Homo sapiens: one gene and its partners. The protein of the gene in region 3 purifies or fractionates together with the protein of the main gene of each other region. This does not show direct contact. Each region holds a gene or a part of one and is shown on either strand. Other genes may lie near its edges. The genes, in order: HSPA12A, VANGL1, EPB41L3 and AP3B1.

What was found.
Region 1: the proteins of EPB41L3 (region 3) and HSPA12A purify together in Homo sapiens (affinity purification with mass spectrometry; 4 studies listed by BioGRID and IntAct, with this or other methods). This does not show direct contact.
Region 2: the proteins of EPB41L3 (region 3) and VANGL1 purify together in Homo sapiens (affinity purification with mass spectrometry; 2 studies listed by BioGRID and IntAct, with this or other methods). This does not show direct contact.
Region 4: the proteins of EPB41L3 (region 3) and AP3B1 purify together in Homo sapiens (affinity purification with mass spectrometry; 2 studies listed by BioGRID and IntAct, with this or other methods). This does not show direct contact.

The regions. Positions count from the first base shown.
Region 1 is NC_000010.11:116,731,645-116,740,692, forward strand, and holds part of HSPA12A (heat shock 70 kDa protein 12A), read right to left. Parts: intron 1-9,048. UniProt on the Homo sapiens protein: Adapter protein for SORL1, but not SORT1. Delays SORL1 internalization and affects SORL1 subcellular localization.
Region 2 is NC_000001.11:115,693,146-115,699,945, reverse strand, and holds the end of VANGL1 (vang-like protein 1), read right to left. Parts: 3' UTR 1,725-6,800; downstream 1-1,724.
Region 3 is NC_000018.10:5,540,998-5,550,692, forward strand, and holds the start of EPB41L3 (band 4.1-like protein 3), read right to left. Parts: upstream 3,001-9,695; 5' UTR 2,916-3,000; intron 2,063-2,915; exon of another isoform or gene 1,832-2,062; intron 1-1,831. UniProt on the Homo sapiens protein: Tumor suppressor that inhibits cell proliferation and promotes apoptosis. Modulates the activity of protein arginine N-methyltransferases, including PRMT3 and PRMT5.
Region 4 is NC_000005.10:78,000,511-78,005,431, forward strand, and holds the end of AP3B1 (AP-3 complex subunit beta-1), read right to left. Parts: intron 2,546-4,921; coding exon 2,392-2,545; 3' UTR 1,816-2,391; downstream 1-1,815. UniProt on the Homo sapiens protein: Subunit of non-clathrin- and clathrin-associated adaptor protein complex 3 (AP-3) that plays a role in protein sorting in the late-Golgi/trans-Golgi network (TGN) and/or endosomes.

The DNA of each region.
Region 1 (9,048 bases), on a different chromosome or scaffold from region 3:
ATTCTTGTACAGCCCTCACCTAGAAATTCTTTACTACACAGGGCTTACTTCAGACACCTGTACTGTTAACTATTTGTGGGAGATAATTACTCTCTGACCACCAGATATCGTGCCCCCTAACTCCCCCTCTCTCAGCAAGGTAACCCTTCTTCTGGCCAGGGTTGACTGTTTCTGGGTCAAGTCCTGATCATACCTGAATCTTGCGGCCTCGTCTGGGAATCTGGACTTGGAAAAGAAAGAAAAACAGACAGACATCAGACCTCCTGTGTATCAGAACTTTTCATTTCAACATGGGGGTCACTGTTGGGGGCCACATTTGCCCTAAAGATGGGAAGCAATCCTAAAGTGGTCCTGCAGAGAGGAGGGGTGGGTGACATGCAGAGCAAAGCAGAAGTAAGAGACAGGGCCAGGGGTGGTGGCTCATGCCTGTAATCCCAGCACTTTGGGAGGCCAAGGTAGGCAGATCATTTGAGGTCAGGAGTTCGAGACCAGCCTGGCCAACGTGATGAAACGCCGTCTCTACTAAAACTACAAAATTAGCTGGGTGTGGTGGTGCATGCCTGTAATTGCAGCTATTCCAGAGGCTGAGACAGGAGAATCGTTTGAACCCGGGAGGCGGAGGCTGCAGTGAGCCAAGATCACCCTACTGCACTCCAGCCTGGGTGACTCCGTCTCAAAAAAAACAAAGAAAGAAAGAAAGAAAGAAAGAGACAGAGGGAAAGAAAACTGCCATGTTCCCAACACTTTCCCCTCCTAGACCTAGCAGCAGGTTTAAGTTCCAGGAACCAGCCCTGGATCCTCACTGTAAAGTTACCTTTTTGGCTTCCTCTAGCCAGAGAAGGTTTACTTACCTGCAACCAAAATCCCTAATCAAAACCCTTTCAAAACAGACATTCTGCCAAGAGCCAAGGCACAAAAAGATGGGCAACCACTACTGTCAAGTGAGGGAACACACAAGAGACTAGAAAAGAAAAGCTGGGCCTGCGGCTCCACCATTGCAGAGTGTTTTATTCACAGCAATTTGACTTGGCACTTCATTCCTTTGAGTTAAGCATTCTTCAAATACTTTTTTAAAATGTAACTCCTGCTGGAGGGACAAGTCATGAATTTGTTAACGGCAAGGAGGTTTGGATCCTTGTGCCGTCTCTGAGTGACCGGGAGTGGCTGGCGGGACTGCTGGAGGATTCTGTAGCCATTGCGGAGTTCAGCTGGAAAGCATGCAGAGGGAGTCGGCAGACCTCGATTCTGAGCCTGGCTTTGCCTAGTGTCCTGGGGCAGTCTCTTCCCCTCCCTGACTTCAGTTTCCCCATCTGTAAAATGAGAGGGTGGGCCCAGTCCAGACATTAGACAACCTGGTCCCATCTAGCTGTGGATGTATCCATGAGCTCTGTTTTCTAACTGCTGGCCCAGGGAAACCACCACCCAAACTGATAACCATCATCCCTTCAAATCGGTCCAGCAGCCATGTGGACTGACTACAAGCAGTTGTTTTCTGAAACTTTCATCTGTCCTTTGGGCACAGACTCCTGCCTGATGGTTGTGCTGTAAACAGTTTCTTATCCCAGCCAGCGGAGATGGTCACTAAGGGACAATGACTAAAGGAAAGAAAAGGAAGTAAGTGGCCAGAGGAGTTTAGCCTTCAGCCCAAGGAAACATGGGAGACAAGCAAAGAGAGGCCAGCCTGAGGCCTCAGAGGCAGCAGGCTGGAGCCCGAATACCTACAGCTTCCCTGTCCCAAACAGAACCAGCCGCCTGGGTACAGGAACCACTGTTCCTCATCACAGAGAAACCAATAAGATCACGAGGTCTGATTTACAAAACATAGGAAGCCCCAAGGGACATCATTTAATTGTCAGTTTATAGGAAGCAAAGGGCACTGGCGTAATCCATTTCCCTCTGAGATCTTGGGTGCTAAGTGGGTCGATGAAACAGGAGCTCCATCCTACAGAACTTACTCCTGGAGTCTCTGTTTTCTGACATTAAAATTCTGAACATAACTGACAAAACTACCCACTAAGTATGCAAACATCTGGGAAGCAAAGCAGTCTCAAAATTTCAAATGACTGAATAGGAAGTGACTGTAGGCTCTTCCTATTGGCTGTTATTTGAGGCTCCACCCCATATCGGAGCAAATATTTTTTAAATGAACACTTATCCCACATCAAATATAAATACACTCAGTCCTCAACTTAGGATGACTCAACTTATGATATTTTCAACGTTTTTATGGGTTTATAGGGACGTAACCCTATTGTAAGTCAAGGAGCATCTGTTCAAGCACTTCCACTGTAATGCAGCATATTTTCCTACAAATCTTCACATTCTACAAACCCATACACTAAAAATAACAGGATTCATGAGGAAAACAAGGTCGGTGTACATCACTCCACACCTGCGGAACCTTGCTACCGGAACCTTTCCAAAAACAGTAACGGAGCACTCACTTCTTAGGGGGCCATTCTCATCAAAATGCAAAACCCAACAGGGCACAGTGGTTCACACCTGTAATCCCAGAGCTTTGGGAAACCAAGACAGGCAGATCACACCTGTAATCCCAGAGCTTTGGGAAACCAAGACAGGCAGATCACCAAGACAGGCAGTTTGAGACCCGCCTGGCCAACATGGTGAAACTCTGCCTCTACTAAAAATACAAAAATTAGCTGGACATGGTGGCACACACCTGTAGTCCCAGCTACTCGGGAAGCTGAGGCAGAAGAATCACTTGAACCCAGGTGGTGGAGGCTGCAGTGAGCCGAGATCACACCACTATACTCCAGCTTGGGCAATAGAGCGAGACTCTGTCTAAAAAAAAAAAAAAAAAAAGCAAAACCCATCCAGGGTGTCACCCACACACCCATACCCATCATTTTCTTATAGGGACAATGTCTTTGCAGCTCCTTCATCTGCCCTCTCAGCTGCCAACAGAGCTTAAGGGAATGGGGAATGGAACAATACTAAAACAGCCCTGACTTACACTAAAGGTAGTTGCATCTACAGATTTTCAGCTTTTTTTTTTTTTTTGCTTTTTTCATATATTAGCCTTCAATCATGAAAAAAGTGCATTCTGGGCTGAGCACGGTGGCTCATGCCTGTAATCCCAGCACTTTGGGAGGCCGAGGAGGGCAGATCACAAGGTCAGGAGATCGAGACCATCCTAGCTAACACGGTGAAACCCTGCCTCTACTAAAAATACAAAAATTAGCCAGGCGTGGTGGTGGGCGAGTGTAGTCCCAGCTACTCGGGAGGCTGAGGCAGGAGACTGGCATGAACCCGGGAGGCGGAGCTTGCAGTGAGCCGAGATCGAGCCGCTGCACTCCAGCCTGAGCGACAGAGCGAGACTCCGTCTCGAAAAGAAAAAAAAGAAAAAAGTTCATCCTGATCTGTCAAAGTGCAAACATACTGGGAAAAATTGAGAATGTGCCAACACAACTTTTCTGAATACCACCATCATTCTTCATTTATCACTTATAGAAACACATGTTCTAGCACAACAAACAAATAATTGTAAGTGTCAGACAATCACTGGGCACTTGCAGAACGTCTTAAGAAGTGAGATCTAACCTACAAGTTGCTTTAAAGCATAATATAGTTTTCTAAAGTTTGTAGTTTCAACATTTTTGCCAAGCCAACTCTGTTAGATTAAAAATAGCCACACATTCTTTGCAGGTCCTCTCACTAAGAGGTGAAGGCAATTTCTCCATCCCTCTATCTGAGCTGGCTTCAAGACTTGCTGTGACCACCAGGAATACAGCAGACGTGATTTTATTGGACTTCCCAGGAACGCCTCAAGAGGCCTTGCAGCTTCCCCTCTCATCCTCTTGCTGTCCTGAGGCCACCACATAAAGAAGCCTGAGCTTGCCTCTTAGAGGATAAAAGACCATGTGGAGAACGAAGCCCAGCCGACAGCCAGCACCAACCCCCAGACCTGTGAGCGAGGTCATCTTGGACTACCCAGACTAGTTGAGCCATCAGAGTGTTGCAGTCACATAAGTGACCACAGGGAAGACCACCAAAACAACCACCCAACAGAGACCTGCCCAGAGAATCATAAGCCATAAAATGACTATTGTTGCCAGGCACGGTGGCTCATGCCTGTAATCTCAGCACTCTGGGAGGCTGAGGCAGGAGGGTTGCTTGAGCCCAGGAGTTTGAGACCAGCCTGGGCAACATAGTGAGACCTTGTCCCTATTTAAAAAAAAAAAAAAAGCCAGGCATGGAGATGTGCACCTTTAGTCCCAGCTACCCACAAAACTGAGGTGGGAGGATCGTTTCAGCCCAGGAAGCAGAGCTTACATAAGCCAAGATCACGCCACTGCTCTCCAGCCTGGGTCACAGAGGAAGACCTTGTCTTAAAATAAATTTTTTTAAAAAGACTATTGTTTTAACCCATTAAACTTTGGGGTGGTTTGCTACATAGTAAAAGCAAATATAATGTGACATTTTATAGACATTTCAATAACTTGTTTAATGCATTGATTGTTTTCCCTGCTTGGGAGCCAATAAACCTTTTTATTCAGATCTCAATGAGTCATGGGCCCCTCAGAAGGGGCTAAATCAGCCCTAAAAGTAACAATGTCTCTAAGGACCCTACTGAGATTGAATAGAAGTCAAGGGTTGATCCACAATCCAAACTCCAGGGAGGGCAACCCGCAGCAGGTGCACGAGGAACCTGACCTAATGTACAACACGGAGGAGGAGTCATTTCCAAACTTCAGACAGCTCCTGAGGGACACAGAAGACTCTCCAACACCCCAAACCTAGGCAAGACTCCAATCTTTCTGGCTATGAGAGGCTCGATAATAGCCCCCTGGTACCGATGACTATGTTATCTCCTATGGGAAAAGGGAGTCAGCAGATGTGATTAAATTAAGGATCTTGAGATGGGGAAATGATTACACAAGTAGGCCTAATAAGAGGTCCTCATACAAGTGTCCTTAGAAAGGGAATGGGAGGAGGAGGGGCAGAGTCAGAGAAGGGATGTGGCAATGAAAGCAGGGGCTGGAGTGATGGGCTTGGAAGATGGAGGAAGGGGCCACGATCCAAGGAATGCAGGTCACCTCGAGAAGTTTGAAAAGGCAATGAAATGGATTATCCCCTAGAGCCTCCAGAAGGAATACAGTTCTGCCAACACCTTGGTTTTAGCCCAGGGAGACCCATTTTGGACTTATTCCTGACTTCCAGAAATGTAAGATAATAAATTTGTATGGTTTTCAGCCATTAAATTTGTGGTAAGTTTTACAACAGCAATAGGAAACAAATGTACTGGATAATTCCTCCTGCCTACAAGAATGTAAGTTGGGACATTTATTCATAATAACAATAACAGCCAATAATAATTGCTCATATTAATTCAATGTCTACTTCATGCCCGGCTCTACTCTGAGTGCTTTTCATATAAAAACTCATTTAATTCTCATAAAGGCCATATGAAGAAGAGACTGTTATAATCCATACTTTACAGATGAGAAAAACTGAGGCTTTATGGGGTTAAGTAACTTGCCAGGGTCACAGAGCAGGTCAATGACACAGCACAGATTTGAACCCAGGCAGTCTGGCCCCAGATCTCACATTTAACCACTACGCTTCCCAAATCAACCTAACAATGATAATAAAATGACTGGAAGTTACTGAGAGCCCTCTGTGTACCAGGCTCATACCTAAGCTCATTACAAATACTCTCTCATTTCATTCTCACAGCACCCCAGTAGAGCAGAGATTATTAATCGTCCTTGTCTACAGCAGAAAAAACAGATGCAGCAACGTTAAACCCAGATGTTACAAGCATCTGAGACCAAAGCCCAGGTTTACCTGCACACCCTACTGCCTCCCTCATCCGTCTTGAGGCCCGGATGGCTGAGAAGACAAAGATAAGGAGCGCAACCACATAATTCACCTTCCAAACTGAGATACTTAGAAGGTGAAAGATATCATTATTACTAATTTCACTAGGAAAAGAGGCATAAACTAGAACTATTCCAGCAAACCAGGACATATGGCCACCCTAAAAATAAGGGGACTAAAATCAAGGCAAAAACTCTGCAGCTCAGGATTGCCCAGAAGGGGTGCCATGGAGCAGCTGCCAGCCCCGCAGGACATCTGCGGCTGCCAGGTCACGGTCAAGGCTGGAAGAAGAGGGGTGGTCCTGGCAGAGCTCAGAGCAGCATCTGCAAAGCTGCAGCCTGGGAGTCATTTGCAATGACAGGAACGCAGCAAGGATCAGCAGGGCCCGCTTCAGTGGGGCAGGTTTCAATTCTGAGCACTGCCTGTGCTTCCTTGGTCGTCTCCTCGCTGGCCCCGCTCACTCCTGGGGATGCCCAGGCCTGGGGGTGCCCGCAGTGGCAGGCGCTCACTCATTCCCTGCCACACGCTGCTCATTCATTAAAAGCCCCTGATTCCTCCCCGCTGTTCTAATTATGCACAGCAGTAATAAAGATGCTTTCTCCCTTACCAAAGAGGCCTATTTATATGAAAAGAGAGCATTTCGCCCCCACAAGATTGAGTCGTCACTCCAGGCCTTATTGGAATCAAAGCAGCTTCTCTTCTGAGATTGTCCAAGCCCTGCCTGACTCCCCTCCAGCTTGGCCCACTCCTGAGCATCCACATTTCCAGGAGCACCACTGCGGAGTGGGCAAGATGTAGACGCCATTGCCCTCTGCTGTGTTCCCTCATGTCTTGCTGACTGACACTCAACAAAAAGTAAGACATTTATTGAACACCTACTAGTGTCCTTAGTAAAAAAAAATGGAAATGAAAGACATAGTCCACGCCTTTCTCGGAAGAAAGAGCATTGAGAGAAACAGCACAAGATTTTAGGCTCCATGGCTGACTCATATCCCAACTCCAGCATTCACTGGTTGGGCAAGTTAGCAAGTTTTTCAAAGCCCTCAATTGCCTTATCAGCAAAATGGGGTAATAATAATGCCAGCCTCACAGGGTTGCTGGAGGAGTCAATGAGATACAGGCATACAAAGCTGGCATATCGTAGGGCCTCAACAAACACTAGTTGGAATTATCAACCATTAAGTACCGAAGGCTTTGGGACCACACAGGCAGATCTCATCCCGATGGATGAGCCCAGGAAGGCTTCCTGAGAGGTGATACCTTAACTGAGTTTTGAAGGATGAGTAGGACCTTGCTAAACAAAGAGAGGATGTCCCAAGCAGGGAGGACTGCATGTGTCCAGGGCCAAAGGCGATCACAAGGCTCTGGGAAACACAAGACACTGTGTAGGGACATACACAGAAGGCATGGGAGGACCACCAAGGCGGCAGACAAGTTGCAGCAGCAGATGTTGACACGGAAGTGGATCCCATAGCCAGAACCCTAACCTGCAATGCCCAGAGCATCACCCTGACCTTTGCTTACTTCCTTTGGGGGCTATAACCAGCGCCCTGTCACTACCATCTACAGCTTGGTGGCTGAAGGAAGTAGGGCAGCCACTCTCTATTAGCCGCAGGCCTACTCAACACAAGTCCCTGAGGGCCTATGACATGCCAGGCACATGCCAGGAGAGGCTGTTCAGCTTGACCACCTGGGGCCTGCATCCCATGGCCTAGGTCCTTACCTAGGCCCCCTTCCAGCTGTGCGCTGCTAGGACTGTCAGCTTTTTCCTCTGTGAAATGGGGATCACAGGGCGTCCTTCATAGTCATTCATTCAACAACAAACGTGGTCAGGGCTAAATGAGATAACTCAATATTCCCAGGTTTCAGCACACACTAAGTCCTCAATAAAAGTGAACGTTTAAAATGTTTATTTTTATTAAGATGAACCTCCAGGATGGCATCTCCAAAGCCCAATGCCAGGCCTCGAGAGATACCCTCAACCCAGGCAAAACTGCCTGCCCACCATCCCTCTCCTCAAGCCCGTGCCCTGGAAAAAATGACTTGGTTTCCACTCTTCATGTCTAGCCCTGACTTGGTCACCATAGGAGCCATCCCTGTCCGAACCACTCTGTCCACCCCCAATTCATCTCACCCTTCTAGGGCTCCATGTGTCAACCCACTCAGGTCATGCGGGAGGGGGCAGGATTGAAGGTCATCTCAAATTTTGCTGTCCAACACCCAGACCCTCAAGTGTGGCCCTTCAGATTTTGTAAATTAAGTAATTTAAACATCTTATTAAGAAAATTTGCAAACATACACAAAGTAAGCAGAATAGTAATGAACCGCCGCTCCCCATCACCCAACTACCACATTTTGCCATTCTTGTTTCATTGGCACGCACCTCTGCCCACTCCCCACCCCACCCCAACTGCACTTGTTGGAGAAGATTTCATGGCCAGCCTTTCTGACACCACCCCCCAACACCACCTACCCACCAGCAAACCCCTCCCCAACCCAGGACTGCCACTGCTCACAAATTCCAACAGTGTGATATTTGTGGCACCCATCCTTTTGTACCAAAAACATTCTGGAAATCCTTCCCAGGAAGCACAACCATTTTTTTATGTCCTTAATAGAGTGGTAACCACTGCACACATGCATAAGGGCTGTATGCACAGGTTGGTGCCCTGGAATCAGATGGCCTGGGTCCCAAACAACACTTCCCAGATGTGTGACCTTGGATAGGTCACTCAACCTGTGTTTGGATTTCCCACCCAGGAAGGGGAGAATGCTGGTAACAGGTTTGTTGTGAGCCTTTAAAACAATAAAATAATGCACGCTCTTTTCCCAGCAATGAGGAAACCTTAGAAATAAGTGTAGGGGCCAGGGGCAAGCCAACTCTGCTCCTATGCAATACTATTCACATCCTCCATTTTACAGATAAAGGGAGAGGTGCCCAGAGGCACAGTGAGCTGCCAGGGACAGCCCGCTCTTCAGGTTGGTCTCTGTCCTAAGTCCATGCACCTGGAATTCTCACTGGCCACCTTGAGCTGGAGATGACTGGAAGTGAAGAAACAAATACTCCAGAACAAACGCAGAAGAGCGGTGGCAGGTGGCTCGGCACACCAGGTATGGGTGTCCCCATCCTGGACAGGATTTCTCCCAGCACCGTGTGTGTGTGTGTGTGTGTGTGTGTGTGTGTGTGTGTCTGTGTGTGTGTGTGTG
Region 2 (6,800 bases), on a different chromosome or scaffold from region 3:
TATTTCTTCTCTATTTTCCTTTCTAGCCCCTCTTCCTCTGCCTGCTCTTTGAATGATGGTGTTTCACAGCATCTCAACTCTACATACTCTTCCAAAATGATGTCATCGTGCCCATCAATACTATCCATGTGCTAATTACCTCCAAATATGAGTCTCTAACCTTGACTCCTTGCCTTATTTTTAGACACATTCATTCAACTGCCTCTGGATATCTTGACTTGTTGTTGTACAAGCACTTCAGACTCAACACAACAAAACCTGAACTCATTGCCTTCTCCCCTAAACATCTTCTCCTCTTCATGGAGTCCTAGTTTGGGTGGGTGATAGCACCATTTATCCAATTGTCTAGGTGACCTGAAGGTGCCCCTTCCCCCCTGTGATTTGTGCATCCCTGGATCATGTCACTTATCATTTAAGGTATAACATATATTTGCATGTCTGTCCTTTCACTAAATTGCAGGCTCCTTAGAGGCAAGGAATTTATCTTAGAATCCCTAGCACTTAGCGCTTTGCCCATCACAAAGTAGATACTCATTTATTGAGTTGGTGGATGAATAATTGATTAACTAGAATACCTATAATTCCCCAGCACTATTGGGTAACAGAGCTTACAAGGTGTCTTAGTCTGTTTTTATTGATATAAAGGAATAACTAAGAGTGGGTTATTTATGAAGAAAAAATATTTATTTCGCTCACAATTCTGCTGGCTGCAATACTGGGCATCAGGTGAAAGCCTTGGCTGCTTCCATTCATGGCAGAAGGTAAAGGAAAACCAGTGTGTGCAGAGATCACATGGTGAGAGAGGAAGCATGAGAGAGAGGAGGTGCCAGCCTCTAACAACCAGCTCTCCAGGGAACTAACAGAGCGAGTACCCACTCACACCCCACTTCCTCCAGAGAGGGCATTCATCTATTCATGAAAGATCCATCCCATGACCCAAGTTCTCAAGTTCTTAAATCACTCCCTTTAGACCCTACCTCTCAATACTGCCGCACTGGGGATTAAATTTCAACAGGGGATTTGGTGGGAACAAATATCCAAATGATAGCACAAAGTGTATTAGCAGGGTTTACTTATGTAGATATAAATTGTGTACATTTTGCTTAATGGCCCAAAGAAACAGCTTATCAATAATCTAACCAATGAATATCTTTGAGTCAATTGCTTTCTCTAATTTCTGTCCATGCAATAGCTAAGAATTTGATTGTGTGCTGTCAAAATTCTACCACTGAGGTTAGCGGAAAACAGGCTTCATATTTCTTTGCAAATAATCAAATTTCCTTTAAATAGACCTATCTAAAATCAGTTGATAATTTAACTTGAATTCCCAAGCCACTCAGGAAAATAATCCAATATTCACCTCCCACATCAACCCAAAGTCTGTTACTTTTCTGTCTTCTTATTTGACTCAAATACCTTTCCACTTGCTGGTTTACTCAAAAGATCTGTTTCATCTCCATGTTTTAGAGCCTGAGGATTTCATTTTTAGTTATCTATTCAAAACATTTTCTTCACTGTAAAATGATTGACAACTAGTAGTTTTTGTTACAATGGTAATTCTACTTTCCCAATCCATCACAATTGTCTTGGTTTTTATAGAAATATGACAGGTTGTCTTGAAATTCTGAAGGTCTCAAAATTATGCGAGAGTGAAAAATGTCCCTGAAAAAGTAAGCAACTTTTTAGATTGAAATAATCACATGAAGAAAAGAAACAAGACACAATTTGATATTTCAGTTTATTTTCCAAGTTTACAGTATAAAAAATGTGATGTGTAAAACATTTTACAGTTAATTGGGATGAGGGGGGGATTATACTGGAGGACCCAAAAAGGAACAAAATAACTTGGGTGACAGGTACACTATTCCATCAGAGACACTAACTCTGTTACTGACATCACAATGAGAAGAAGTTTCATAGCATAAACCTTATGAATGTAAGTAAATGGACCTGTACAGATGGTTGCTGGTAGTGTCATTCATTCATTTACATGCTTGCAAATGTGTCAAAAGAGCCCACTACCCAGTTTATGCAGGAACTCACTCAGGCCTTGTCATACACATATGGTGACCATGAGCAGAGGCTGGTTGGCAAAACTGCCCCTCCTGGTTACAATGTACAGTATTAACTAATCAGAAAGAACAAAAAAGGTCCCTGACCACATTTTTACACAAACCGTTATGACTCTGTCAGGTAAAGACAGGTGGTTTCATCTCTGAACTTTCTAAATTGGTGCTGGACTTGAAATCAGGAAATGTAAAGTCCTTCTAACCAAAGCAATTATCAAATAATCTCCTCTCAAATAAGACCTGCCTGGCCCAGGCCTCTCTGGTTCTCTCAGTAGCATTTCTGTTGAGGAAGGGGTCATCTATAATGTGAGTTAAATCACTGAGCCAGTATCTGCCCCCACCCTCATCTTTGCTGGCATCCTGCACTCTATGCAATAGTTATGGCCATAAATGACTGTTGGAAATCAAATTTGGCTAATCACGCCATAACTTAGGGGTCCCAGAGGAGTTTGCCATTTAATTAAAGCCTACCGTAAACTATTATAAAAATAAATTATTGCCATAGTTTAGATTTTTGTATGTTCCCTTTTTAAAGAATGATGATGAAAAGTAAGCGAATGTTCCATTACCTCTATAACTGAGAGGTGCTGGTAAATGAAAAACAACTGTTTCATCTTTCTACAAGGCCCCTAGAACGGCAATGATGTGCAACTGTCTAAATTCCCTACAACTTCAGTTGAACTAAACTTGTCACCTGCAGATCAGATGCCCAAGTCCCATCACTAACTCCCTGAGCAACAAGTCTCTGGTCCCCACAGATGAAGCTTTCTTAGGCTGAAGGCTTTTTAGAATTAAACACTCCTAAATGATGAGCAACTTCACAACAAAAGGCCATGTCTACAAGTGAAAGCTCAGATAAAGATAAGCACATACAAAACCAAACAACTGTACATTCAAATAATGCTTCCCAAATACCATTTCAGTGCCAAAAGAAGTGCCAAAGACACTTTTAAGATAAAAGCCTGGGGTTTGTCACCTTTGTCCCCAAAGCTTAAAGTAAGTGTCTTTCTTCCACTATGACAAGGACAAAACGCTGATGTTTGTAAGCTGAGAGAGACATAAATGGTAGAGTCTTGGTGCCATATTGAAAGAAACTTTTCACAGTGCTGCACCTGGCTTTAGGAATCTGCTCTTTTGTTGGAGAGACTAAAACAACCCACTAAAGAGGCTTATTTCATAGACAAAACAAATTGGGTTATCTACGTAGAAACGGAACAGGACCTGGGAAAACGGGACTTATAGAGCCCTGAAATTTAATTTTATTCTGAAGTTTTACATTTCTAATCCATCGCATCTTAATTCCTAATGAGATGTCACATGGAGAGATGTGAGCACCATCTTCCCTTTACTGTCTTCCATTGAAAGCAAACAGCAGGGCAGAAAACTATGGTTTATGCACAACTGAATCAAAACTTACTACATATGGGAACAGAGAAAAATGGTTTTCTGAGTCCTGTTTTACGTCTGCTCTGTCAAAAGTCTTGGGGGCAAGTGTGAGAAAGACGGTGGGATGCAAACTGCTTGCTGAGAACACCTACGTCAAGGAGGCCAGGCCAGGGACTCCGGCTTGAGATCCCCACAGGATGGGGCTGTGGACAGCCCCTCTCACTCCAACCAGGGAAGAAGTTTGGGGCATAATGTTGCCATGGCACCAGAGAGAGGCCAGGTCAAGCCCCTGCCTGCCTCCCTGCACCCAAGGCCCAAGGCACGCATCTTGCCCAAGCCAGCAGAGTGGGAGCAGAAGGTGGGGCCAGGCAAAAGCAAAGGGGGGCTGCCAGAACAACAGCATCCCTGTCTTGCAGCAGGTGTTAACACTGAAAGGCTGGGTTTTCCAGAAGGGATTCTCAAGTTCTTTCCATCAAATATCCTAAGATATTTGCTAGCATAGTGGAGAAGCTTTCCAAGGGACAAGGTGTAAATCCAAAGTGAAAGAAGAGATCCTGCCTCCCAATGAACTCTCACCCCAGGTTCTAGTTCAAGGATGTGTCTCTAGGTCCTTCCTCAACATCCAGAAGTGCCGAATCATTTAGACCATACTTCAAGGTACAGTGGACTGAGGGGTTAGAATCAAACATCTAGTTTGAAATTCTGTTAACCAGACATGAGACCTTGGACAAGCCCCTTCCTCTCTGACCTTCCGTTTTTCACCCGAAAAACCAAGATGACTCCTATCTTGAAAGAATGTGGGGATAACAAGGCTGGGTGGAACACGGACTGTGACATACATTACCTGATAAATGTGTTAGTAGCCTTTCCTTTCTTTGACCAAAACATGTTTTGTCAAAATGTGATCCAAAACTGAATTTTCTGAGCATACACTTGGTTAAAGCTCAATGCAGTTATTTCAACAGTGTCTAAACTATCTCATTTCGCTACTGCACTGAATACCAATCAAGAACGGTGGGCAGAAGAGCAATTCTTATTTTATTTATAATGAAATACGACCACAAGGTTACATAGTAGTAAATTCACAGTAGTGATTTTTTTGTTTTTCAGTAACAAATCCGTAAATCACAAACACTACCCAGAAATACTTAAATCACTTTACAATCGCAGGGTCTCTGCTGCAGGACTATTTAAATAAATATGCTAACATTTCTGTGCTACTGTAAGTAACCTATCACTTTTTAAAAATAAAGCCCAATTTTTAAGTTACCTTAAGAAATATCTAGTAAGGCTTCCAGGGTAGTGAAGTTTGAGCAGTAATTTTCTTAGAGCTTGACCTTTGTTTGTTTGTTTCTTGCTGTTTTCAGAGTCCTAAAGCAAGAAAGAGTTTAATGGACTTGCCTGCAGGACAGCAGGCTCCCCAGAAGACAGTGCTGTGCTAAAGCCATTTACTCTAGCGGGAGAAGCCAGTGTCAGTGAGGGAAAGGAATAAAGCAGGGGAGGGAAAAGTCACTGGTTTAGAGCGACCTCTCAAAACACAGGGTTATTAAGTCATCTCTCAAACACAGGGGACTGCAGAAACACAGACACCCTCACACACTCAGCTATATACACAATGACACGTATCTGCTGAGCTACACACCTGCTACAGATAACACAGATGTTAAGATGTCTGACATATAAATGTGCTATCCGTCTGGTAATACACTCAGAGAAATGCTCACATATATGGAAATAAAAACGCACAAACAAATATGCATCCCCACTTAGGGATACTTACACAGCAGGACCCAGATTGGAAGGTAAACCAAGGACTCACTTTTGTTGGTTTCACTGAGTGGCTGGAGCACTCACTCAGTACGTAGGTTGGAGTGGCAAGGTAATCAATTTCTGTCAGTCCAATATGCTGGTAGCATCCCACAGAGCTACAGCCCTTAGGTAAATACATGCACTCGAAAGTGATTATGAGGCAAAATGAGAGAGAAATCTACCACCAACTACTGTAGAGAGGGCAGGGGTGAGCACTTTATCCCTATCCAACACACACCTGCACAGCTAGTCTCTCCATTAAAAAAGGAGTCCCAAGCCCCAGGCAATGAACTACAACACAGCAAACACACCAGGTCACCTGCCTCTTACCATTTGCTGTAAAGAACTTGTCTTCCATGTAGATGTCAAAAGGCAAGAACAGAGGCGGGGGAAGGGAGGTGATGATAGTTGGGCAAAAATTTGGTGGTCAAGTATTTTCTCTAGGGCTTACTTTATGAATTTTAGCCAAAGTATTACAGATTTGACTTAACATTTTGATAATGCAAAGGATGGATGAACTATATAGCTTTAAAATCCTCTCTGAGAATGCATACAGAACTTTTTAACATTCAGTTCATGGACTATAAAAACTGTCCTATCTTCAAAAGTACATATTTAAGAACAAATTATCTACCAGTTAAAACATCACCAGGGAAGAGAGCAATCTCAGATATAGACTCCTCATTAAGTTCTTTAACACTCAATGCTCTAATTTTAATAACGTAGGATGAAAATTATAAAAAATCTATAAACATATAAGGCAAATGAAATCCTGTCTACTATAATGTGAACATACATTCTACCAGCCTTAGGGCGAAGTTTACCCCCTTTTAAAAAGAATAGCCTACCAGTTCCAAGAATTGAAATAAAAATGCATTGTGTTCAATTGTGGGATGCAGCTTTCTGAAACCTTAAATCTTTTAAATGTCATTTACATTGTTCCCACTGCAAAAGTAACTCAAGCTATAAAGAGGTTGAAAGTGCAAAGGCTTTACAAAGATCCTGCATTTTATTTTGTTATTCTTTCAAAAAGAACTCAATACAAAGTCAATATAAAAAAATCAATACTCAATTTAAAACAGAAACAGTAATTTCTGAATGTCTAACATTCTCCTATGCAAAGACTGGGAGAAAGAGGAAGGGGGAGAGAGAAAATAAATTCTTTAATTTAAACCTTTCTTCACCCTGCTGGGAATGCACATGCCAGAGCAAATGAATCCAGCTTAACCCCTTCTGGACTGGTCATTGAAGATAGGGTTGGAAGAACAGTATTTTAGAATGGTGATGAACAGTGTCATTATTAACTATATGTACATACACTTATGGCACTTGGAACTGCACTGTATCCATGACGTAGCAACCTCTGACACAGCCCGTCTCACACTTGCCATCTCTTACCCCATTTCCCAAAATATTTCCTGAGAAAGATATTGTAAGGAACTTCCAGTTTGAAGGGATCTAACGGCAAAAACTAAGAACAAAAGCACCATGGTTCCATGGTATGTGTTTTTTATAAACAGAAACACATAGTTGAAT
Region 3 (9,695 bases):
TGGCGTGAACCCGGGAGGCGGAGCTTGCAGTGAGCCGAGATCGCACCACTGCACTCCAGCCTGGGCGACAGAGCGAGACTCCGTCTCAAAAAAAAAAAAAAAAAAGCTAGCAGGGTGTGGTGGTGGTCGCCTATAATCCCAGCTACTCGGGAGGTTGAGGCAAAAGAATTGCTTGAACCCAGGAGTCGGAGGTTGCAGTGAGCGGAGACCGTGCCATTGCACTCCAGCCTGGGTGACACAGAAGGACTCCATCTCAAAAAAAAAAAAAAAAAAAAAAAAAGTCTCTCTCTTCATTATATATACTCAAATTCTCACAGAAAGGAAACATTTATTCTTCAGTCTACTCTTGGAGTTCTATTTTACTGGAGTGGACATGAATTCTAATTTGTGAATTTTAGGGAAAGCACTAACTTAAAAGATGAATGCACATCATACAACACGGAAGAAAATACTTTTACAGCAAGTTCCTGCCACACTTAATCTAATATACTATATAAGTCCAGAAAAGATTCACAAGATAACAGCATCACATCTCTCAGTACATGGATAGTTGCCTCTCTTCTACCTAGGTGGCCCTTTAATACATTTGACCAACCAGTTTTTAAAAAACAATTATAAATAAAATTGCATCCGATCAAGTTAAAAAAAATCCTGATCTTTTATTTCAACACAAAGTTGTCCAAAGTCCAAGCAGTGTACATGAACTGATAAAAAATTGCTTTTAACCTAAATCGCATTCATGCAGAAGAAATGTCTTAAAAATTAAACGCAAATATTTCATTGAGACACTGACATTTGACCTACAGCTCCTGAATCCTTCAGCTAAAAGCGGTTTACAAATTAAAGTGGCTACTCTTCTTGTTATGGATGAATTATTCACAAAACATGTTCTGTTTTGAAAAACTTATTTTGGCTAAAGTGTATTAACTAAATAAACTTGATGCAGTAAGTTGTGCATCTGATATTTTGCTTTTCTAAACCACCAGAAAACCATAATGCAAATGAGACAGTATTCAGCATTCAGCTATCAATGCCTTGCAAATTAACAAATTGAAGTCACGCTTCTCCAATTTAGTATTTATTCCCTCTCACATTAATTTTGTTACTCCAACTAAAGTTTTTAAAGTTTGATACCAAAATTAACATGCATTTTTTAAACACTCACTCTGAGCCAAGACAGAAATCACCTCTCAGTCCCCAGAGTTCACTGGAGCTTGATGTGCTGCTCTCTTTTCTTAATAGGGCTTTTCTGCTTAATTTGCTGTAATTGGGACTACGTCCATGGCTCACAGACATAAGCAGAATTTTATCATTTTTGTTTCCTTGAGACTTTAAAAATCAAGGTAAATTTCAAAAACAATGTTTTTAAGCACTTGGTGTGACGCTTCCTGTACTATAGAAGTTAATGCTACCAAGACAAACTCCAGCACACCTGGCCACCTCAGGCAGCCTAAAATTCTCACTGTGCCCCACTCCCCACCCCCCCTCAACAAAAAGGACAGGCAGGGTATCTGCAAAAGCAATTCCGCGAGACTAATGTAAAAAAGCTGAAACAACTTAAACACGCAATGGAAGCACTGCATTAGCAGGACTGCCCGGCCCTCTCAGGACCTCCCAGCCCAACCTCCACAAGTAATTAACACCACATGTTTCCTTTATCATTCTATTTGTTCTGTTCCGCAACAATCTCTACCAACTTTAACCCTGGGCTGCAACTAACGGAAAAACCCTAGAAAACTTCAGATCCGTAATATAAAAAGAAAATTGAAAAGAATACTCTCATTGCAAGGGACCACAGTTACAATTTACTAGGTAACCACACCCACCGCATTGCAGAAGCCATGAACTTGGCGGGCGTGGGGGGGAAGGGGAAGAAGTCCGGCGAGATTAGAGGGGAAATCCGAAAAAGCAAGCCCCTGCGGCAGCAGCCAGGAAACACTCGCCAGGAACTGGCTGCGACCCCAACTCCAGCGGTCCGAAGCCCTAGCCTCCCCACCCCCACCGCGGCAGAGCCGCCTTCGCAGACACCTCCCGAGGAGAATCGCGGCCCCGAGGGCGCCAGGTGAGTCGCGCCGCCCCGAGCCCCCGGGCCACGGCAGGCCGACCCAGGCGCCCCCGGCCCGCCCGTGCTCCCGCGCCCGGGTGCCAGAGGCGAGGGGCCCCGGCAGGTGCCCAGGCCCAGGGCAACCCCGCTTGGACGCTCCCTCCTCCTCCCCCACCGGCCGGGGGCCGCTGCCCCAGTTTGGGGAACGAGGCAAGTTATATAAAAGCGGCCGGCCCCCCTGCCCAGCGGGGATGCTTTGTGCGGAGCGCACCTTATCGGCCCCGCGCTGCGCCCGCCCGCGCCTGCACCCGGGACGAGCCCGCTGCCGCCGCGCGCTGAGCGCAGGGCCCCTCCCGCGGCCCGCCAGCCGCCACCCGCCCGGGCGGCGCCGCAGTGTCGCCCCCTGTCCCCCGCACCTCCCCGGGGGAGGGGCCGGCCCGCGCTCGCCCCCAGCCCGAGGGGCAACTTAAAACATGGCGCCCCGGGCGGGGGATTTGTGCAAATTGGCGGAGAAGGGACGCGGGGACCGAGTCGCCCCTTCGGCCAGGGATCCCAGGGAGGCCCCCAGGCCGGAGGCCGGGGCTCAGGCTCTGCGCGCCGGCCCAGCCACTACTGCGCCGCGGCGGGCGGAGCGGGCGGGGGGCGCGGCGCGCAGGCTCGGCCCGGTGGGGGTCCCGGCGAGCGGGAGGGCGGTTGGGGACCCCGGCCGCGCCGGGCGCGGGGCTCGGGATTCGGGAGACCGCGCGGCGCCGAAGCCACGCGTCAGCCCCACTGTCCCGCGCGCCTCGCCCCAGGCCTCGGGCTCTTCCTCCGCACCTCGTAAAGCCGAGACCCCCTCGCAGTCCCCCACTCCGAGAGGCGGAAAAGTTACCTGGGATCAGCAGGGAGCCCGGGCGCGCCGCGGCGTGGGGACTAGGCTCGGGCGCGCGTCCTCGGCGGCGGTGCGCAGGAGACTCGGGCGTGGGGAGGAAGCCGCAGCCCAGGGCTGCTCGCCGCTGTTCCCCCCGCCCCCTGTTGCAGGAGACACCGAGGCTCCGCGGAGCTGCGGCGGGGGCCCACGCCCAGAGACCGTGCGAGGAAAGCCAACCTCGTCCTGCCTGCCCTCCCAGCCGCGGGGGAGGGGGCCACCGCAGTACTTCAGGACAGTTACATGGGCACAGCCTCCTCCGTCCTGGCGCAGGGTCAGGCTCCGCGGACGACGCCTGGAGACAGCTGCCAATGCCAATAGCTTTAGCCCTTTATTCCCACTTAGATGATGGCCTGGCCTCTCCAGACCCCTCTCCCCTCCCAGACATCCCCTGTGAGAAAGGAGGGAGAGGGTGTTCCTGACCTTCAGGTGAGTTATTTATTGGCTAGGGACTGCAGTATTTTTTTTTTCTTTTTGGAAAGAAAATAAAATCAAGTTGGTGGTGTCTTCAAGTCATGTTAATAGAGAAGATCTGAATTAATGCTTGATAAGAGAAGTCGCCCATTTTTCAGCAACTCAGCTACTCCGTCCTCTCCAGTATCTATAAAGCTTTCCACCGAAATTTACCTTGATTTTAAAGAGCGGAGGTGGCTCACTGACTTGTAAGTGAAAGAAGTAACTCCTGGTCATCTCACAATATCTTAAGATCTAACCGACTAACCAAGATATTTAAGAAATATTTTTATGGGCACAAAAAGAATAGAGTGAATAAGACATAGCATCTGATAGCACAACAGGGTGACTATAGTCAAAATAATTTGATTGTACATTTTAAAATAAAGTATAATTGAATTGTAACACCAATGATAATGCTTGAAGGATAGATTTCCTGTTTTCCATGATGTGATTATTACACATTGCATGCCTGTATCAAAACATCTCATGTACCCCATAAACATATATACATACTATGTACCCACAAAAATTGAAAATAAAATATTAAATTTTTTTAATTTTTAAAATAAATTGTATGTATATTTAAGGCATACAACATAAGATACATATATAGTAAAATGGTTATTATAGTGGAACACATTAGCATATCTATCAACTCACATAGTTATGCATTTCCCCCAACACCCCTCTACTTGTGGCAAGAGTAGCTATAATATACTCATTTAGCAAAATCCTGAATACAAGACACTTCTTAGCTCTAGTCCTCGTGTTGTACATCAGATCCCTTTCATGTTGTACGTTATTAATTTTTTTAAAATAGAGCCTTCTCCAAATCATCCGGTTGCCCCTCCAGGAGCTCAGGGACTCATTAAAAGAGGGAAAAAAATGGATTCACAAAAATATTGCATTTGCTACTGGGTGCCAAAGACAAGATACAGAACACGTGCCTCTGGGAAAGATTAGTGGGCCTGATCTGTCAGTGAGGCCCGGAGACGTGGGGAGACTTGGCGCAGGTTTCTAGAATAGGGAAGACTTTGGTAGGAAAGGAGGATGGTATTTGATTTCCTTGGCTGGAGTGGAAGGGTTTTTTCATGTTGAAGAGGGAGAAGGTTGGAAAATTATAGTTACTATGTTGCTATGGAGTTTATGGGACTATATTCTATAGATGTGTAGCTTTGGGAAATTTTGAGCAAGAAAGTGTGACTTAAGTAATGTTTTAAGAAAACTAATCTTATGGCTCTGCAAAGACTAGAACAGATGGGCAAATACCAGGTTGGTGTTCGGAGGAGACTATGGTATTAAGACAGTTACCAGAGGTAATGAGGGCCTGAATTGTCTTTCAGGTGACAGATAAAGGTGACAGTTCCAATAGTGGATGTTTGGGAATTAACTGCATTTCCTGTCAGAAAGTGTTGCGTATGAGTATTAGAGACATATATGCACATATCACATACGCACCTGTATGACTCTGTGTGTGTGTGTGTGTGTGTGTGTGTGTGTGTGTGTGTGTGTGTAGCACATAAGGTCTGTGAATGAAGAAAGAATTCATTTTCCTTTTTTGCATGTACACTAAAGCACTCCATTGAAAGTGGACTTGAATAAATTGTATTGTTTACAATAAACACTCATTTGGCATTATCATTCAAGACACAGATGGCTCCATATTTTCATTCATTTTGTTGCAGTATTTTTGCTATTCTTTAAAATTGAAAGCAAACTTTTTCTTATGACTCATGAATCTTAATCTTTGTGGTGATGAAAATCAGCAATAGTGTCTGAATGGCAATTTTCTTGGGAGAAAAATGTTAGACAACTAAGTATTTTTTTAATTAGAAATACCTATCTAAGCCAGGCGCAGTGGCTCATGCCTGTAATCCCAGCACTTTGGGAGGCTGAGGCCGGTGGATCACGAGGTCAGGAGTTCAAGACCAGCCTGGCCAAGATGGTGAAACCCCGTCTCTACTAAAAACACAAAAATTAGCTGGGCATAGTGGTGGGCGCCTGTAATCCCAGCTACTCAGGAGGCTGAGGCAGAGAATTGCTTGAACCTGAGAGGTAGAGGTTGCAGTGAGCCGAGATCTCACCACTGCACTCTAGCCTGGGCAACAGAGAGAGACTCGTCTCAAAAAACTACAACAACAAACAAACAAACAAAACCCTAATTATGGTAATATTCCACGAATTGAAAATTTGGAGTAAAAACCATACTGCTGCATAGTTTGATAGGAAATCTTGGAAGCAATTACTTTGGAATCCTCTGGATTTAACCAAGTCTCTCCTCTATTATTTTTTTCCCCCTAGCACAGACAGGGAGAAAAAGAAACGTCAAATTCATGAGGGGTGCATAGCTGCATAGCTCCCTCAGCAACTTGCCTGCATCTTGATAATAGCGATCTCTTCATTCTTTCTTGTGAATCCCATGCAGGATCCTCTCTTAGTCCTCTCTGTCTCCCCACAGTGCCTCACTGGGCACATTGCAAGCCAAGCACTTCACATTTTTGCTAACTGAATGAATGGACATTGAATAATGAACTAAGCTGTCACTTTTCTTCAGGGATTCGGCTTCCTCATGTATAAAAGGGACTGATTCCAAAATTCTGTATGGTTCAATAATATTAGGGGCCTATAAAACTAAAAGATGTATCACCTCTTACTAAGTAAAAGCAATAATGAAAACCCTACTATTTAGCTCTCATCAGGAAATAATGAGCTCTTCCACACAGAAAGGAGAAGGAACATAAAGTAGAAAGCAAGGTGAAGATACAATTATGATTGAATTTGCTTGCTTTCTTAGAATACTAACTTCTCTCCTTTTCCCTCTCACTACCAAAAATAAAGCCACTATAGCCCCAGAGAATTCTTTATTCTTGTCAATGTAACCCCCCTTGTGGTGCTGTTTCAATAAGTTATAGAAAAGTAGTTCTTGGGTCCAGTAAATGCCGTTTACACAGTCCTAGAATTAGTGCCAATTTGGCATGAGAACTCAGTTCTTCAGATTCTTAATTTACTATGTCCACACAGTACTAAAGAGAGTGTTATGCAAATACTGAAACAATCCATGGAAAGTCAGGAAAGATTCCATGACTCTAGCCTAGGTCTTAGGATGCCCATTCTGATCTCCACTACCTTAACTTGGGCTTTCTCTACGCTAATCTTATTTATGGACTTCCTGAAATTACTCTATATAATTTATATCACTGAAGGTCACCAGCTATCAAGAATTCTAGCCAGAGAAAAGGTGCAGAGAAAAGGGTGCAGCTTACTTCAGGTAAGATATGTGTGTAAATTCATCCCAAGCTGAAGAGATTGGATCCCCCATGAACCTCTATTCCACCACAAATGTCAATAGAGTACTGACTTCTTGAGTGAATGAGTAACTGGTATTCTGCTACCTGAACAGCAATGATAATTCCAACCTGATAGCCAAGACAAGGACAGAATTTGCAGTTGTATTGACAGCCATGTTGTCAGCCTTATGGATGAGACTCCAGAAAGAAATAATAGAGAATCAGTCTGGTTAAACTTATCTGAACTTTGCTCTCAAACATGAAAATTGAAGAAATATTGACGCTTGAGCAAACCCTACAAATGCCACCCTAATAGACATTCACACTCATTTGGCCTCATTTATTCAACCTGATCTGCTGCCTTAGTGAAATGTTGACAACACTGGCAATAACTAGTTGAGGTTTATTTTATGCTCAGAATAATGTCAGGCACCTGAATTGCATATCAAGTTCTTGAAATCAGGATATAAAGTCTTCAGCCACAGCGTTACTGGGGACCATAAATAAGAGAAATACAGGGATGAATGCATAATTCAAAAGCAACAAGCTTATTCTTCTGAAATAAAAATTCATTGAAGAGTTTCTAGGTTCTAAGAATAGCTTTAAGTTTACAGCTCATTAAGGCTTCCAGATGCTCTCTTCATATTGAGTTTGTATACCCCATTTCAGGGGTCTGTCTACATGCAAGGCACAGATGCAAAACGAAATAAAGTATTGATAAGTATAAATGTAGCACAAAATGTATGAAAAGTATACATAAGATGGAGCAAGTTTAGGCATGCTAACACCATTTAAAATCATTCCTATTCATCAGAATTCCATATTTGCCTTTTTTATCTTTGTATTCTTATATAAAGAATAGACTTAAAGGTGGACCCATACATAGTATGTAAGTTTTATTGTATTAAAACATATCCTTATTGATTTTTTTACTTTCTCCATTTCCAGTAAATTTTAGAAATAAGTCTCAGTACTTTTAAACGATAAAATTGTAAGGGTTATTCTAGTGATCAATTCTTCATTAAATGTAAATGCTCAATGATTCTGTTCTTAAGTAAAAATAAAAAATCCACTGAGAATGTTTTCTATTTAGGATTTTAGTATAAATATGGAATGGTAAAATATGAATGCTAGAATATAAAGAATGGAAGTTGTTAATCTGTAATATTAAATTCAGCTCTCAACCACATGATCACTATTGAATTATATGCTAAGACACTTAACATTTTAATCACTTTTCCCCCAAAAGACAAAATAAATGCCAGCAAGCCTGTCCATCCCCTGTAAAGCTGTAAGTAATCCTAATCAGCTATTATGTTTCACCCCAGAAGCTATCAACAAAAATTAACAGAGGAAGAAATAATAGATAGTAAGACACATTCAGAAGTCGGGCTTATTAACTTGTTAATGCTATCTCCTCTTTAGGAAAATGTGTGATGGTTAACTTTATAAACTAATAAACATACAGCAATAACTACTCTAAGGAAAAAGCATTAGCTTTGTTTCTTAATTTAATTCCTGTTTTCCAGCATGTTTTTTTTCCCCTTTCCAACTGTCTCACTGGCTTGCAGATTTCAACAGTGAGGGTACAACCTGAAAATGTCATTCCACTGTAGTCCACAGCTTCCAGAATGCTCTGGGAATCACTGAGAACATCATCTAGAATATCTTTGTCCCTTAAAATAAATTTGTTCAATAGGTCAAAGCCATTTGAAAGAAAGCCTTGGCTACTAACACTTTCCTATGCAAGATGTTTATTAGGGATTTGTCTGATATCCAAGGCTGACTCATTTGTAAATGATACAAATCTGAGGATACCAGAGTTTCTCAAACTGGCTTATTTGTGAACAGTTTTCTAAGTTTTACATTTCTGTGTCAATAAAAATCTTAAAAAGAATAAAACTACCAGATGCACACCATTGATATCAGAATCATTCAAAGTACTTGTGAATGATGCAAATTTTGGGGTCCAGCCTTAACTGAGTCGGAAGCTCTGGGGTGGGGTCCAGGGAGCAGCCATTTTTAACAAGTTCCCCAGGTGATTATAAATCACACCAAATCTTGAGAACCATTGATCTAGGCGACCAGTCCATACCAAAAATCCCACAGGTGACAAAGTGCGTTCAGATAGATGTTTCATAGAAGTTGGAACCGAAAACGGGTGGAAAAACAGCCCACTCAGACATATACGAGAGCTGAACTGAAGATAATCTACACTACACGATTCACAGTTTGCAGGAGTTATTGCTTGGATCCTGTCATTGCATGCATCAGTCTGCAGCAGCAGTTCATTAGCAGTAAGTATAGTAATAAATAACAATAAAGGATTGTCCTGTTCCCAATTCCAGCAATAATTGGATTAGATGCCTATTTATTAAAGATTGCAGTAACACTGCAACTCTGACCTTAATTTCCAAGTTTTTACAAAGTTGCCAAGGGATGTCTCATTAAAATGGGAAATTGAGGACTAATTGCCGGCAGTTTTAGTTAACTTTGAGATCTGACTATCTTAAACCCTGCAAATAGAGAATTTCAATACATTTTGGTATACCATACTTAGGCAAACAAGCATTCCCTGGGCTGCTTAGTAAAACTTAGTGAACCAAATTAAATAAGGAAACTGACCAGAGGCTCCATCCTTCTAAAGCACAACATGAGGAATTTTATTTCAGAAAAACAATATCATTTATCGTTTTAAATTAGTGTGTTGTTAATTTTAGTGTTCAGGCCTTGCATTTCTCCTATCAATTTATTAAGGTTATTTTGGTTTTATACTTGATGAGCCCTATAAACTTAAATCTGGTTTTACATCCATATATGTTTAGAAATATTTTCTTTCATTAAAGGATGAGATTTCAGCTCAATAAAAGAGGACCATCATTCTAATATGGGCCAGGCTGTTTTATAAACAGTGAGTTTCCAGTTAGAATGTTTAAGGAGATACCAGATGACATCTGTTAGTAATGCCCCAGAAGGCTTCTTCTATCAGGAGGGCACTTGG
Region 4 (4,921 bases), on a different chromosome or scaffold from region 3:
TTTGCAAATAGTTATCGAGAAGGACAAGTATACAGTATTTTAATTTGAGAAATGCATTGTTACAGTCTCTTTAGAATAAAAAAACTCTCATAATAAATAAAGCAAATGTATTGTGATATCAAAAATGAGGCTTAGTCTGAAATATACTATGAGAGCCATTCTTCAAGATTGGTGTACATAAAATGTCCCATTAAGTGAACATTAAAATGAAAAAATATAGCTAGAATTAAGAATTCAACATTGACTAACTCGACTCAATGGAACAATTTAAAGATAATCATGGATTATGACAAAGTTAAAGGAAATATGAGGCAAGGAACTCTGAATCACCACACCACAAAAGAAAAAAAACCAAACCTTTAACTTGGGGCTTTGGTCGTTTTTCTGTTTTACGTGAAAAACATTTTAATGATATTAAGCTACTAGTGTTAAAATGGTTTCAACTGGTAGCGCACATTACAATCGATACATACTGTTCACTGATTCATACTACATTATATTATTGATTTACCATAATTTTAAAAGTTAGCAGCCAAAAATAACTTAGTCAAAAGTAAAGCCCTAATTAAATTTCCTTAGTTTAAAAAAATACAAATGTGTGAACTATCTTTTAAAGATGAGTGTCCTAATTTAAGGAAAAATAAGACCTTTCTCAATCACAACATGCACTTTCCCTCTGCCTGAAGACAGCATGGATATAATTTTTTTTTCTTCCTCAGAAAACAGGTATTAAACCTGTCAAATTCTGTCTGACATTTCAAAAAGTTATTGACTTAAAATTCAAAGTTATGAAGCTCTGAGCAATAAGGCTAATATGGAAATGCCAACGACCTGCGATTACAAAGGGGCTTTTGGGTGTGTTACCACAGCGCCCAGGCTCCAGAGGGAAGTGGAACTCGTGGCTTCCATACATTGGTACAGAATGGTACAGAATGTACACATGGTACGGAATTGGCACAAAATGTACACGTGGCTTCTGTACATTGCACTTCTGTACATTCTCTTCCCGGAGATTCAGGGCTATATTTCTTTCTGGAGCAGGAAAATTTAACAATTTTGTTTACTCTTGTCATCCCACCAGCTTGAAAATTTAAATAATTTTTCGACTCTGTTTTGTTCTTTTCAATATGTATGTTCCAAGAAAATTCCATTCTTTTCTTTTCAGCCTTCCTATAATGCTTCAAGCAATGTACAGTCACTTCCTTTTTACTTTTTAAAAATCATTATGTATGTGGCTCTATACAAAAAGAACTGAGTAGCTTATACTACCTGAAAGTCCATTACCTTGCTTCAAAAAGGAAGTAAAATTTCAGCTGGTTTTAAAAAGGTACGAAAGTATTAGAAAAGTTCTCTGATTATAGAACAACCTTGAAAACAGTAACTTAAGGTAGCAAATAAAACAAATACTCTAGGAAAAGATGCTAATAGGTTGATCATATAACTAGTTTTAAACATTTCTATAAGTTTATGCTAGTTAGTTTCCAAAGTTGGGCATAAGGAAAAATGAGATTCAAAGAATTTATTCAGCAGGCCACATAATCAGATATCTACTAATAGATCAAAACTACCTAGAAGATGTTTATTTTGCAATATGAAGATTTTTGTTTTTGTTATTAAATACACCAATTTTTTTTCCTTGGAGTAAACTATAAGTAGAAAATTTACTTGGTTTGGAAGTGGTTTTTCTTTCGCTAACTAAACCACATTGCTTCTCTGCATAATGTAACACTCAAAATACTTGCTTTAAAATAAGAAAACTTTAGCATATGAACTTCAGGATTATTAATAGTTTCTCATTAAAAATGCAAAGACAAATATGATTCATATGCTAGTTTATTTATCTTATTATTGAGAGATAATTTCATGATGACAGTTATCAATAATCAATTACAATATCAAGAAATTCAAAGAACAAAATCTTGCAGAGACTATGCTTTTGTATTTGGATTTAAAAAGTATGTGATCTCATTTTCACATACCAAGCTGAGAGGCCATTTAGACTATCTCTTTGCTAATTTTTGCTTACTGCTGTAGGGAAGAAGATTTCCAATGAACTTTAAATATCTCATTCATGTCTACCATTGTCGAAAAAGAGAAGGAAAACGAGGAGGCCAAAAGAAGCAGCAGGACAGAGAAAACGCCACATGGATTCAAGAGTTGAGACAACTGACAGTAAAATATATGCTCTTTGGTTAGCAAAGCAAAAAGGGGGAAAGTATTGCATACATGATAGATACACACTAGCATTCTAAAGCAGGAGACAAGAATGTCAAGAGTGTATTCTACCCCCACTGCCAGATGGAAGGGCTATTATTATAAATGAAAGGCAGCAGTAGTGGATGCCAGGCACTTTTGTTGTGTGCCAGATTCTAAAGTCCAGATGTAAGCAGGTTACCCCTGAGACAGGACAGGCTTCAGTTCCCGCAGCAGAACAGAGCCAATCACAGTTTTCTCAGTGTTTATGATAAGCTGGGCTGTAGAGCCTTCCTTCAGTTCCACTGTGACTAGCATCAATGACCCACTGTGCACAGTTTTAGCTGCAAACCTGGAAGAGAAAAAAGAGAGACCTTTTATCATAAGATGGGGAGGGTAAAGGAGATAGCATACATTCAAATAGGATTAAAATAACTCTTTTTTGTCAAATGAAATAATTTGCTGCAGGCTCCCTATTGCCAAAAACCCAAAGCCAAGCATTCTTCTGAAAAATCAATAAACTGTCCAGCCCATGCTAACCACAAGCAGGTAATTTTAGTGCACATTTAAAACAGAACAGAAAAAGGAAGTCTATTTTACTTATTAGTTTAAACAATAGATGCATGTGAATAATTCTCCATTACAATATATTTGAGAACCATTCATCCACTTGGTATTTAACATTTCACCATGCATAGGGACATTTTAAATAAGCCATTGTATTTTTATTTTTAAAACATGTTAAGAAAAGGTACCTTTCTCAAAGAGCTTCAAAATTTAACTCCTCATATCTGAAAATGATTATGTAATAAGTTAGATAATTTTACGTACATTATAAAATTCTTACTAAGTTTCAATGAATTCACTCATGTAACAATATTCAAATTAAATCTCTAATGTTAATGATGACATGAAGCAAAATCACGTGACAGCTAAGTGCAACCTCACGCTTCCCTTTTTCTTTGTTTTGAAATGTTTAGGACATTAGATCTTTCTTTCTGTAGAGTGTAAACAAAAACATTTCCAGAGGAAACTGGAGGTCTAAAGCTCTAACTCTAAATTCCAAGACATGAAGAACCTACTGATTACACGGAACTAAAAGCAAAACTAGCCTTTTAAGCACTGCAATTGACTGAAAAGCCGTTGCAGGCATAACGAACTTCTGTCAATCCTGCTAATTCATTCTGCATGCACAGTTGAGCCTCAGGGTCATGAAGGAAGAGGACAGGAACCTCCCAAGCCTCCCTTTTCCACATGAAGCATGTTCCACACACTTTTTGGGGGAGGGGGTTTGATTGCAGGGATGACTGGAGAAAAACAAAGTTGCTGCACATGAGCTTTTGAAAACACTAACAAGTGTAGAGCAGGTCTGTGACCTGCTGTGACCCCACTTTGCAGGGCCAATCCCCTTGCCCCTTTCTATATGACACGTGTCTGAATCTGAGCCATCTGCCTCAATTTGCGCAACATCTTCAGCCACAATGGCACCCAGTTAGCCCTGACAACAGCTCACAATACATAAAAATAAAACTGCCGCGCTAACAGCACGCTGCGGACTATTCAAGAGCAAACCAACTGGTCAGTGTCTCATGTCTGACAATTAGCATGGGCCTCGCACAGAGCCCACGGTGTCCACAGGGATCTGTTTAATTACCATCAACATAAAAGAGGGAGTTTATCAGGAGACACTCAGAAAAACTTCACTCCCGACTTAATTAAAATATTAGCCACTTAAGCAGGAAGCAGATTCTCTTTAAATGAAAAGTAATTTCTTTTTTGGGTTTTTTAAAAAATAACATCAAGATCTCATAACACATTAATTTTTTTAAAACCAAACAAGCCATTTTTGGACAAATAAAATCATGAACTAGGTTGTCCAACAATAATTAGAATAATGTATCCAAACCAAAACAGATATGCTAATTTTACTAAATTTCAAATATTATAAACACTTTGAAGTTGTGTTTTAAAATGTTAGCTAATGGGCTATCAACAAAATATGTTAGAAAATCTTCCTAGGCATTTGCTTGTGCACTCTACAAGCATGCTGAAAACTTGCAAGGAATCTGACAGAGCAGTATTCCTACTGAGAGAAGCAATTGTAAGTAACCAGTTTAGGAATATAAATCATACCAATGTTTTTAAAGAGGTTTTTATAAACCTCTTAACACACACATCCATCTGCTTTTCAGACGTACACATGAGAGATTATGAACTAGGTACCTCAATTTCATCTTTGAGAAACATAAAGATCACCAGCCCTAAAATGATCTCTCTTTTCTAAGGCTCCTCACAGGTTTATGCATTTCTTTTGTCTAAATTTTTCAGGCTCTTCTGCTTCATAGGAGAATGCTGTTTCTATATTCCTGTAAAACCACGTCACCAAAGGATATGAGGTGGCTCTATTTTCCCATTCATTTATGCAACTTTTCCCACAGATTCGGTCATCACGTGTGTAATTCACTCAACAAATATTTCAACAGAGGTCCCTATTTCTGACAGGGTTATAATTATGTAAACAATAGTCTTATTAGTCCCTTTATTTACTTAACACTTGTGCCTTGGGACCATAGAGAAGGAGATTATGCCTGAATAGGAACACAAAAGCACTGTTGTTTGAATTTCAGGGTGGCACAGCCCCAAGGCACATTTTGTCTCTTTTCTATTAAAAAACTTAGAGTTAATGTTACAATTAATATAAAGTTGGCAGAGACAAATGTCAATTTTG